Regions from separate parts of the Homo sapiens genome. Here regions 1 and 2 are each linked to region 3. The links come from fine-mapping of genetic effects on gene expression. A gene starts in region 3. Each other region holds a variant in brackets. All regions are shown on one strand. Distances are between the middles of the regions.

The links.
Region 1: its variant is fine-mapped to the expression of LINC02481 in putamen (GTEx, PIP 0.95).
Region 2: its variant is fine-mapped to the expression of LINC02481 in nucleus accumbens (GTEx, PIP 0.99).

Annotation. Positions count from the first base shown.
Region 1 is chr4:6,655,282-6,659,511 of GRCh38, forward strand. It overlaps the pseudogene LOC124900840. Among named protein-coding and RNA genes, the nearest start is that of LINC02482, 16 kb to the right of the region's middle. RefSeq lists a silencer at 3,503-3,662. The variant A/G (reference allele first, on the strand shown) is at 2,538.
Region 2 is chr4:6,644,792-6,648,988 of GRCh38, forward strand. No RefSeq gene overlaps it. Among named protein-coding and RNA genes, the nearest start is that of MRFAP1, 6.2 kb to the left of the region's middle. The variant A/C (reference allele first, on the strand shown) is at 2,596.
Region 3 is chr4:6,688,315-6,692,536 of GRCh38, forward strand. LINC02481 (long intergenic non-protein coding RNA 2481) reads right to left here and starts at 2,205. Exons shown (of 3, transcript NR_147207.1): 1 at 1,985-2,205; 2 at 995-1,145; 3 at 1-582. RefSeq lists enhancers at 275-1,474, 476-1,223.

The DNA of each region.
Region 1 (4,230 bases), 33 kb before region 3:
AGCAATCCCATTACTGGGTATATACCCAAAGGATTATAAATCATGCTGCTATAAAGACATATGCACACATACGTTTATTGCAGCACTATTCACAACAGCAAAGACTTGGAATCAACCCAAATGTCCATCAATGATAGACTGGATTAAGAAAATGTGGCACATATACACCATGGAATACTATGCAGCCATAAAAAAGGATGAGTTCATGTCCTTTGTAGGGACATGGATGAAACTGGAAACCATCATTCTCAACAAACTATCACAAGGACAAAAAACCAAACACCGCATGTTCTCACTTATAGGTGGGAATTGAACAATGAGAACACTTGGACACAGGAAGGGGAACATCACACACTGGGGCCTATTGTGGGGTTGGTGGGGAGAGGGGAGGGATAGCATTAGGTGATATACCTAATGTAAATGACGAGTTAATGGGTGCAGCACACCAACATCGCACGTGTATACATATGTAACAAACCTGCAAGTTGTGATCACATACCCTAGAACTTAAAGTATAAAAAAAAAAAAAGAAGATAGGGTTAGAATTAGGGTTAGGAGAACCCAGAGGAGAATAATAAGGTGGGGGCACGGCTTTGAGGGTCTTCATTCATTTTTATCCATCCTTAGACTTTCTGCAGACTAAGCTTCAAGTTTTCAACTGCTGCTACAACAAATTATCACAAATTAACAGCTCAAAATAACACACATTTATCATCATAGTCCTGAAGGTCAGAAGTCACGAATGGCTTAGAAGGTTTCTCTGCTCTAGGTCTCACAAGGCCAAAATCAAGGTGTTGGCTGGCTGGGCTCCTATCAGGAGGCTCCAGAGAGAAACCGCTTCTAAGTGCATTCAGGTTGCTGGCAGAATCCAGTTCCTTGTGGTTGCAGGCTGGGCTTCAGCTGGGGGCCACATTTAGCTCCTGGAGGCCTCCCTCCTGTCCTTTCATGTGGCCACCTGTGTCTCAAAACCAGCAGTGGTTTGTCAAATCCTCCTCATTGTCCAACCCCCCGCCCCGCCCCGCCCCAGCCACAAAGCTGTGAAGCTAGGGTCCAAACCCCCCACATCTCAGAGTCAGCACAGGCAGGACCAGTCATCTCCTGCTTGGAATAGCACGGATTTCTTCTGCCAAATCTCTCTTCTGCCTTCGTTTTCTATCTCTGACTCCAGCCTAGGAGCGTTTTTCACTTTAAGGACTCAGGATTAGGCTGGGCCTACCTGGATAATCCAGGCTATTCATTCTCCTTAAGACCCTTAACTTTAATTACATGAGCAAAATCCATTTTGCCATGTAATATGATATATTCGTAATTACAAAATATGTCATATAATTTATAACACAATCACAGGTTCCAGGGATTAGGATGTGGACTTCTATGGGGGTCACTCTGCCTGCCACACCTCCCTAGAGGTGATGGTACCCAACTCCACTAAGTTCAGGTGGTGGCACAGGCCAAGAGAGCTACCCTCAGGCTGATTGGCCCTCAGTCCCCCAGCCAGCAGGTTGTGAAGCCAGGGTCCGAATATTGGATGTAGTTCCCACACGACTCTGAATGCACTGTGTAGTCTAATGACTGTCATAGTAGCGATGCCACCTGCCTCTGCCTGGTGTTTTGGCAACTGTACAATGCACTGTCATGCCTTTTTTTCTCACTTCTCTCACAGTCACAGGGGCCTACCAGCTCCATTTCACCCCTAGAGAACTGAGTTTCCAATCAGGGGCACTTGTGCAAGCAGGGTCTCCCCAGTCTTTACCATTAGCCCGTTTGTGGGCCACAGACCAGGAATATAAACGTATCTTTTTTTTTTTTTTTTTAGACAAAGTCTCAGGCTAGTCACCCAGACTGGAGTGCAATGGCTGGATCTCAGCTCACTGCAACCTCCGCCTCCCGGGTTCAAGCGATTCTCCTGCCTCAGCCTCCCGAGTAGCTGGGACTACAGGCATGCGCCACCACCCCCAGCTAATTTGTGTACGTTTAGTAGAGACGGGGTTTCACCATGCTGGCCAGGCTAGTCTCAAACTCCGGACTTCAGGTGATCCGCCCACCTCGGCGTCCCAAAGTGCTGGGATTACAGGCCTGAGCCACCGTGCCCGGCCTTAACATATCTTCTACCCCCTCCAGACAGCATTCTTTAGGGTAAACAAAATGTACCGAGCCCCTGCTGGGCAGCCAACCCTGGCGGAGACGTGCGGACAGATTCTACCTTCAAAGAGCTGTCCTGGGAAATGCCACTGTTTGGTAACAATTTTGTTTCCAAAAACCTCGCCTGGCCTGTGTCGGGCCGGCGGAGACAAGCCAGCGGTTCCCTGGCGAGGCGGGGACGGTTTGAGGTGCAGCCGTGGGTTTCGTGGCCCTGGGTCACGGTATTCGGTGCAACCTTCCGTTTCTGGTGCAAAAATCACTCGCAACTGAGTGTTAAAACCCCAACCCTGGAATCCCTCTCAGACTCCACCCCAGAGCCCGCGCAGGCGAGGGCGCGTGGGGGAAGGGGGACGAGAGCGCGCCATGGCGCCTGCACGATACGGGACCCCGCCCGA[A/G]ACCCCCGTGGGCGCGTGGCAACCTGGAGCTGCCGTGAAAGGAGCTTCGAGGAGGCCCCGCGGCGGCTGGCAGCGGGAAGGCCATTTGGGTGTGGCCTTCGCTGTTTCAGGGCTGAAAGTTTTAGAGTAAAATTTTATCTAAACTAAAAAGGAACTTCAAGAACTTGTCGCGGGTGACAGCGAGGTGTCCGCGCACGGCTGGTGGGTGCCCGGCTGGCCCGGGGCGGGAAGGGGCGGCGGCGCTGTGGCCTTGCGTTACCGTGAGGAGGGCCTTGAGTGGGTTGTCCTGGTCCTTGGCCTTTTGAACAAAGCATTGAACAAAACGCACAAACAAAGTAACAAAGGAATGAAACGCAGGAACAGAAGCAGGGAAAGCAGCAATTTCTTAAAGCGAGAAAGCACCCACAGGGTGGGAGCGGGCCCGAGCAAGCAGCTCAAGGGCCAGTTAGAAAGTTTTCTGGGCTTTAAGTACTTCATTTGAGGTTCTTACCAGCTACCTCTTATGTGGATGAAGGTTTTGGTTTGTGGCTAAAGGCTGGGGTGAACTGGCGCCCTATGCGGATGAAGGGACGGTCCCTGCATGGCTCTTGGCCACTCCAAGGCACGCTCCCTTTCCATCTGGGAGGAGGCTTGTAGGGAGAGTAGCCTTTGATGCTTTACTACTCCCAATGGGGAGATGGTGCTTTTCCTTTTGGTTTGGGAAGTTTGAGTTAATCAGCCTCAGATTCTCTGCCCCAGACCTTGGTGTTTTCCCTTGATTCAGCTTTAGGAAGTCAGCAGGAATCTGCCTTAAGTTCCCTACCTCCAGACCCTGTTCTCCTGCCTGACGTGGACACGGACCAGGCGAGAGCCCGCAAAGACCCAGGTGGCCCGGCGCCCCGCGTGGGCGGCGAGGACCTGGCCTCCCTGGAGTGCGAGCGTGCCCGGGCGCACTAGCGGGCCCGCAGGGAGCTGCTGGAGATCCAGAGCCTGCTCGACGCCATCAAGAGCGAGATGGAGGCGGAGGAGCAGGGCGCCCGGGCCCCAGCACCCAGCCCGCGCGCGGAGGCGGAGGATCTGGTGGCCAGGCTGTGCGCCGAGGCGGAGAGGAAGGCCGCGGAGGCGGCGCGGATGGGCAGGCGGATCGTGGAGCTGCACCAGCGGATCGCCGGCTGCGAGTGCTGCCGAGCCGGCGGGGCAGCGCGGGGTGGAGCTGAGACCGGCGGGGAGTTTCCCGCGTGGAAGGCGCTGGGCAGGCAGGGAGGGGTGCGTAGAGCCGTGCCACGCTCTCCGCCAAGGTATACTCTTTTTACGTAGGTAAAAGAAAATAATTTCATTTCTTAAAAAGAAAAAAAAAAGGAGAAACAGAAACCCAAAGACCTTTAGCAGTAGAACAATAAAGGGCATAGAGCTGCCATGTCGCTAAGGGGGTTAAACCATTTCTTCTATGCCGTAAAGCTAAATATCAGGCGGAGAACAAAATTTAAAAGTGTGTGAGTCGGGCGCTGTGTCTCATGCCTGTAATCCCAGCACTTTGGGAGGCTGAGGCAGGAGGATCACTTGAGCTCAGGAGTTCGACATCAGCCTTGACAACATAGTGAGACCTCTCTCTACCAAAAATAAAAAACAATTAGCCAGATGTGGTGGCACACACCTGTGGTCCCAGCTCCTTGGGAGGCTGAGGCAGGAGAATTGCTTGAACCCGGGAAGTCAA
Region 2 (4,197 bases), 44 kb before region 3:
TGTGGTAAGAAGCATTCTGAGAGACAGTCTTACGTGGCTGTACAGTCATTAAATTTTCTGGCTGGAGTTGCCATATTTATTTATTTGTTTATTTATTTATTGAGACAGGGTCTAACTCTGTTGCCCAGGCTGGAGTGTAGTGGCATGATCTTGGCTCACTGCAACTTCTGCCTCCCAGGGCTCAAGCAATTCTCCTGCCTCAGCCTCCCGCGTAGCTGGGGTTACATGTGGGTGCCACCATGCCCTGCTAATTTTGGCATTTTTAGTAGAGACAGGGTTTCACTATGTTGGCCAGGCTGGTCTTGAATTCCTGGCCTCAAGTGATCCACCTGCCTTGGCCTCCCAAAGTCCTGGTATTACAGGATGGCAGAGCTGGAAATAACCTCAGAGAGCAATGAAGCTTTTCTGGGTTAAAATGTAGAAGTCATTAGTGCTGTTCACCAAATAAATTCCAATTCTCTGCCTTCTAGGCACAGAGTAAGATGGCACTTTCTGGCCCCCTTGGGGTTGGGTGGGCCCACGTGATTAATTCTGGCCGATGAGCTACAAAGGAAACTTACATCTGTTGCATCCAACCCAGAACCTCCAAAGCAACACCCTGCAGAGCTGTCTCTTCCCTCTGGCACAGGAACCAGCAACATTCCAGATGGTGGCTGAGCTTAATGACCACAGTTCCCTACCAATCTATGATGAGTATATACCACAAACAAGGAAAAACCTTAGTTGTTTTAAGCCACTGAGATTTGGGGATTGTTTGTTACAATAACAACTTAGACTAAGATGACTGATACAGATATTCATTATTTCTTCCATTCCTTGTGTTTTGATGAAAGGGTTGTTCTCCCTTCTACCTGAGGCCCGTTGATCACATCCCTCCCACTAGCCCAGGCATTGTCCAACAGGTTATCTTCTGTCTCTGGCTTTCACGTGGAGCTCTTGACTTTCCTCTGCCTTCTAATGACTTCAAGGTGAAAGAAAGCGCTAGTTCAAACTCCTACTCCTGGCCATTCTCCCCCTTCCAGGCAGCAGGTAAACATGGAGTGGCTTGAGTTTCTACCATCTTCCAGAGATAAATGGGGATTTATTACCCTGGTTAACACTGTGGCCAGGTAAATCTACAAAATCCATCCAGTGCCTGCTTCAGTCACTGCCTGATATGGTTTGGCTGTGTCCCCACCCAAATCTCATCTTGTCCTGGGAGTGACCCGGTGGGAGGTCACTGAATCATGGGGTGGTTACCCCCATACTGTTCTTGTGATAGTGAGTTTCCACGAGATCTGATGGTTTTACAAGGGGCTTTTTCCCCTTTGCTCTGCACTTCTCCTTCCTGCCGCCATACGAAGAAGGACAGGTTTGCTTCCCCTTCTGCCATGATTGTAAGTTTCCTGAGGCCTCCCCAGCCATGTGGAACTGGGAGTCAATTAAACCTCTTTCCTTTATAAATTATCAGTCTCGGGTATTTCTTCATAGCAGCATGAGAACAGACTAATACACAGCCCAGCATATGTTAGACCCTCTCTGAGTCAATTCTCTTTTCCCCGTCTCTGATTTCCATAATGTTCTGTGGTACCTATTTACTGGTTTATATCCCCATTGCTTCCTCCTTCAAACTCTATACCATGGTTCACAAAATCCTGCATTCCATTATTCCCAAATTAATCCATATTATTCTTTGCCTCTTCAAAGAACATTTCTTTACCAACTCTTAACAGCTGAAACTAGATTTTCCCCAAGCCCTGGGCTTCCCTGTAGCCTTGTTGGTGATGGTTCCTTACAGCACTTGCCCACTGCCTGGGGCAGATACTGCGTTCATCAGGACTGCATTTTTGCCAGAGAGGAGTGAAAAAAGAAAAAAAGAGCTTAGGGTTTTGACAAGGACATCACTGCAACAATACATGATGTACTCTGAGTGGGGAAGTATGGAGGTGAAGAGCAGGAGAGCAATAGGCGAAAGTAGCTGGTAAAGTGAATGGAGATCCCAGCATGTTAGTGACTACAGTGAAAGTGTCACCTGGAGGATGGGATGTGGCCAGAAAATAGGAGGGCTGATATTGGAAAGCAATTTATCATATTAAAAACTCTGATTGTCAAATAAAATGTATCTGTGGATGACATCCTGCGAGCTACGTGCTTCTGGGGCCTCAGATCAATTCTTGTTTTAACACCTGTGAAGCATTTACTATGTGCCAGTTACCTACAATTCCTCAAAAGCCTTTCACGACCCCTCAGTGGGGCAGATGCCATTATTAAAATTAGTCTCGTCTTATCAATGAGGCACAGAGATATTAAGTAGGCCAGGTCTGAGACAATAACAAGCCCCAAGTCACTCTTGGGAGTGAATGGCCAAGCAGGGTGGAGGAGCTCCTTGGATATGAGGGCCCAGGTGTGGGGCTGGTGGCTGTGTGAGCATGGAATTCGCTCAGGACGATGGCAGGGCTTGGGGTGGAGGGGAAGGCCAGGAGCCAGGTGCCCAAGTTTGCAGTGAATGACGGGACTCCAATGGGGTGAAAAGAGATTGGAGGATGACAGAGGTGAGAAGAGGGAGAGGACAGTCAGATGACCAGGGAGTGCTCCCAAGGAGCACCATTTTGGACA[A/C]GAGGGAGGAGAAGTAGAGTGTGGACATGGCCTGGGAGAACACTGCCCCCAAATTCTGATTGACACACGAGGGACATATAGAAATGAGTGGCTTTTCCCTCACAGGCCTGAGGATGAAATAGCACTATTCTCAGGGGTAAGGTCGGGGGAGGGCAGAGCTCCTCCAAGAAGTCAGGCACATGCTGGAGGCCCAGGAACAGGTTTGGGGGTGAAGAGGAGTGGAGAACATCACTGGAAACTTGTCCTAGGCTGAGTTCTCCTTGGTTCATCAATGGGAGAAACAGCAGTGACAGGCTAGTAAGTTTAGTCCTGAATTTAGTCTCTTTGAGGGAGGACAGGCATGGCCTTGGTGTGATCGCTATGGAGGCAAAGATGTGGCAGTTGGAGACTGTCACTCAACTGTGCTTCCTGCAGTAGCTTCTATGAATGAGCTTGGAGAGGCACCACTGCTGGTCATTTGGGGCCTCACAGGAAAGGGGTTCTGCATCCCAAACCCAAAGAGTTACGGGAGATGGCTCCAAAAGAAGCCATCTTACAGGGAAATGAGACTGAGGCCCCAAACCTTTCTCAAGCATCTTCAGTAAAGGTCCTTCCTCAGAAAGTGAGTGCCAGTCACGTGGGCAAACACCAGCTGATGACTGTCACCTTCCTGTCAAGGACACTGGCTCCACAGGGACACCACTGGGAAAGCAGGGGAAGGACAGAGCGCAGTGAGGAAAATGCCGGCATCTTCACAAGATTTGGGCTGTGGCTGCCTGCACATTGGGGCTGGCTGACAGCAAACAGGCAGGAAGCATCTGAGCGGGTCTTGTTTGTGGTGTTTTTTTTGTTTGTTTTTTTTTTTTGAGATGGAGTCTCGCATTGTCGCCCAGGCTGGAGTGCAGTGGCATGATCTCGGCTCACTGCAAGCTCTGCCTCCCGGGTTCACACCGTTCTCCTGCCTCAGCCTCCCGAGTAGCTGGGACTACAGGCAGCCGCCACCACGCCCGGCTAATTTTTTGTAATTTTAGTAGAGAAGGGGTTTCACCATGTTAGCCAAGATGGTCTTGATCTCCTGACCTCGTGATCCGCCTGCCTCGGCCTCCCAAAGTGCTGGGATTACAGGCATGAACCACCGCGCCCGGCCCCCTTGTTTGTGTTTTTATTTCTTGTTTTCCTTTTGTTTTTTTGAGACATGGGGTCTTGCTTTGCCCAAGCTGGAGTGCAGTGGTCTGATCACAGCTCACTGCAGCCTTAACCACCCAGGCTCAAGCGATCCTCCTGCCTCAGCCTCTCCAGTAGCTGGGACCACAGGCATGTACCACCTCACCTGGCTAATTTTTTTATTTTTATTTTTTAGAGAGATACGGTTTCCCTACGTTGCCCAGGCTGGTCTCAGACTCCTGGGCTCAAGCAATCCTCCTGCCTCAGTCTCCCAAAGTCATCCGAAGGTTTTGAAGGAAATATATGGCCAAAGAAATTCCAAGGTGAGTCTGCTAAAACTTGGGGTTGTTCAGCCCCTGAAGGAAGTGCTGAGCCCCAGCACCTGCACCAGCATGAAGAAGGCTTCAGAAACTGCAAAGCCCCTGGAGGGGGCAACCTCTGAGGCACATTTCATACAAG
Region 3 (4,222 bases):
TGATCATTGTCACTGGTTCCTAGGAAACTGACACTCGGGTCACAAAACTTGTCCAAGGTGTCACAGAACAAATAAAGGACAAAGCCAGGGACCAAACTAAAGTCAACCTCTGCCTTTCTACAATGCCAGGCTGCTCACCGTCAAGCAACTTGGCGGTGTCACCGAACTCTGCACCGGTGTACTGAGGTGAACAGCATCCCCCAAAATTCATGTCCTTCCCAGGACCTCAGAATCCAGCCTTCTTTGCAAATCAGATCATTGTGAAAGTTCTAAGTTAAAACGGGGTCATGCTGGGGTAGGGAGGGTCCTTAATTCAATATGACTTGTGTCCTTCTGAGACACAGAGGCACATGGGGGGCCAAGTGACAACAGAGGCAGCGATTGGAGTGCAGGGCCACAGGCGGAGGAAGGCCGCCAACCACCGGAGCTGGGGACGGGCAGGGAACAGAGTCCTGCTCTGAGGCCCCAGAAGGAGCAACCCTGATGACGCCTTCATTTCTGCCTTCTCGGCTCCAGAACCAAGAGGGAGCCCATTGCTGGTGTTTTCGGCCCTCCAGTTTGTGGTGATTTGTTCCACAGCCCCTAAAAAACAAATACTACCGGTTGGGAATACTCAGTCACCAGCAACAAGAATCCCCACAGCGTCTCCACGTGGCTGCACGTAGCCGAGGGAGATCACGCCCAGGATTCCTGCAGGAAGAAAGCAGACGGCTGAGAGCCTCCTCTTTGTATTCGGCAAGACCAGGCTCCGTAGCCCTCAGGGAAACATTCGACCACAACTGTGGTGTGTGGGCCCCGCTGTTTGCTAGAGAGCCTGAGAGATGAGTCATTGGTTTCTAGCCTGGAGAAAGACGCCTGCGAGGCGAGACTGTCAGGGTCTCTGCCGCCCTCCCCAGGAGCTGTGTCCCTGAGGTGAGACGCCACCCCTGCCCTCACAGCTACCCGGTGCATGACCCCTGTGTCCAGCCTGTCCCTGAGAAACTGATTTCCTCACCTCTCTCAGCCTCCTCCCTCATCAAATATTTGTCGGAGGCATTATCAAGGATCAAACCGGTTTGATCCAGTGCAGTGCAGGAAACGCGGGCAGGGTGGAGGGGCCTGGGCTTGTTGACCAAGTTCCTCGCTGTGAGCCTCGGTTTCCCCTTCTGCAAAGTGTGGAGATCTCATCAGGTGATGAGTGAGGCCCCTCCTCCTCCTTCAGTTTCCTGCTCCTGCCCAGGCCTCCGCCAGCTCCCAGTGTCCTTGGGCGAGTGCTGCGGGGACCCTGAACCGCACATGGCTGGGGGCTCCTCACCCTGCAGCCCCTCACTGCCTCACCGTGCACATCCGCGTCTCACACCAGCGGCCATGTGGGCCTCAAAAGGGCAAACCTGACGGTGCCTCTTGTGGCTGATAACTCTCCAGACCATTGACCTGGCACAACAGGATCACCTGGGAGGTGCTGGGCCAGCCCAGCCACTGAACGGGCAGCTCTGCCTGGGTGCGGCCCAGCAAGAGCTAGTTCTTAAAATCACCTAGGAGCTCGGACGTGTGGCTGGCTCTGCGAGGCCCAGAACTACAGGATCAAGCCCCTGAGGGGCCTTCCCTGGTTGGTGCCCTCCTCCCCCTCCAGCCCATCTCCACCCTGGACCCCCGCTGCCCATCCCAACTTCTTGATTCCCCAGAGCACTGACTGGTTGTTTGTGCCTTGTTCCTCACTGTCCCACATCCCAAGGCACCGACTCCTCCAAGCCTGCCTCCCACTCCACTCCCACTTCACTCTCCCCATGCCCTTCCCGGGCATGAGTTCCTCCACCCCCCAGCACAGGCCCCGCCCTCCTCCTGGCCTCTCTGCTTCTCCCCTTCCCAGTCACCTCTTCCTTGCCACCTCCTCCATGCACATGGCGCCCTCTGTGGCTGGTACTCCCTGACACCAGGATCCCAGCCTCGTTCATCGTGCATCCCCCAGCCCAGCACAGGGACTGGAGAGCTTGGATCAACTTACAGCTCCCACCTGCTTGGGCCGGTGCTGGATCCTGGGCTACACTCGAGGGGCCGTCTGTCGCATCTGCTGAGCACAGATGTCTGGAGAAGGCCCCATCTGATCCAGATTCCAGAGGACAGAGGAGTCACTTCCAGAGCTGTTCCCATGACACTCAGGACAGGCTGGGCAGGCCAAGCCTCACCTGCCCCACTGCATAGCTTGTGTTTTCCTGAAACCTCCTGATCCCCACCTGGGCCCGACTGACTGGGGATGTCTCCTGCCTGCCCATCTCCGTGGTGATAGGGCGGCCTTGCCGAAACAAGGCCACATCCTGGCCTTCCCGGGGGTTGACTGCTGGGCCCCTTCCTGTCAGCGGTTGCTCTTTACCCTGGTTAACATGTAGAAGCTCGTGGTTCGAGCTCTTCATCTGGCCTCTTTTTTTTTTTTTTTTTTTGAGACAGAGTCTGGCTGTCGCCCAGGATGGAGTGCAGTGGTGCGATCTCAGCTCACTGCAACCTCCACCTCCCAGGCTTAAACGATTCTCCTGCCTCAGCCTCCCGAGTAGCTGGGATTACAGGCACGCGCCACCATGCCTGGCTAATTTTTGTACTTTTAGTAGAGACAGGGTTTTGCATGTTGGCCAGGCTGGTCTCGAACTCCTGATCTGAAGTGATCCACCTGCCTTGGCCTCCCAAAGTGCTGGGATTACAGGCGTGAGCCACTCCCAGCTGCCTCAAGGGCAACTCCCCGCATGGCAATAATCACGACCCCTACAGCAACATTCCTGAATAAAGTCAGAATAATTTTCTCTTTAACTGGTCCTCTGACTCAGAGGTCTGTGTTGAACCCTTTCTTGGAAAATGCCACCTCCCTCCTGAGAAGAGTCTCCAAGGGGGCTTGTCCTCAGAGTTACCCAGGTGAGCTACTCCAGCAGGGGCAGCCCTGGTGGTTTGGTGACACTCCAGTGGCCTGAACGGGTGGGGGAGTGCAGCAGTTTCCACCCGATGGATGTCCTGATCCTTCCTCCCACAGCGGTGAAAGATTAAAGTGAATAGTCGGGCATGGTGGAGCGCCCCTGTAGTCCCAGCTACTGGAGAGGCTGAGGTGAGAGGATCACTTAAGCCCAGGAGTTGGAGGCTATAGTGAGCTGTGATTGAGCCACTGCACTCCACCCTGGGTGAGAAAGCAAGACACTGTCTCTAAAAGTAAATAAATGGGGCCAGGCACGGTGGCTCATGCCTGTAATTCCAGCACTTTGGGAGGCCGAGGTGGGCAGATCACTTGAGGTTAGGAGTTCAAGACCAGCCTGGCCAACATGGTAAAACCCCATCTTTACTAAAAATACAAAAATTAGCTAGACAAGGTGGTGCATGCCTATAATCCCAGCTACTCAGGAGGCTGAAGCAGGAGAATCACTTGAACCAGGAGGCAGGGGTTGCAGTGAGCCAAGATCGTGCCACTGCACTCCAGCCTGGGTGATAGAGCGAGACTCCGTCTCAAAAAATAAATAAAAATAAATAAATAAATAAAAATTTTAAAACAAAGTGATGACCGGACTGGCCAACATGGTGAAACCCCCAAAAAATTAGCCTGGTGTGGTGGTACATGCCTGTAGTCCCAGCTACTCGGGAGGCTGAGGCTGGAGAATCACTTGAAACCGGGAAGTGGAAGTTGCAGTGAGCCGAGATCACACCACTGCACTCCAGCCTGGGCAACAGAGTGAGACTCCATCGCAAACAAACAAACAAACAAACAAAAAATATATGTGTGTGTATATCTATATATATATGTGTGTGTATATACATATGTGTGTGTGTATATATGTGTGTGTGTATATATGTGTGTATACATATATGTGTATATATGTGTATATATATGTGTGTGTGTGTGTGTGTATATATATATCTATATAACGCAGTGAATGCCCTTCCTGAGGAGCACTGCCTCTGGGGTAGGGAGCCTCCTTCTCTCTCCCACTTCTCTGGCTGGGGTGGTATGATGGTGGCCTGTGCTGTGCGACCTTATCCCAAGAGGGAACTGCCCAGCTCAGGAGTGAGCAGAATGGACCTGTCCCTGCTCCCCAAGGGGTCACCAGTGGGGCCAGTCTGAGCCTCCACTGCAGGACACCTGGGCAGAGGCAGTGTGTTCTGAGAAAGCCGGCTCTTGTGAGACCTGCTGCTGCCATCGTGCACCAAGGTTTTTCTATGTTGAGCCACAGCCCCGTGGGGAGAGTCTCGGCCCATGTGCTGGTGGAGGCTG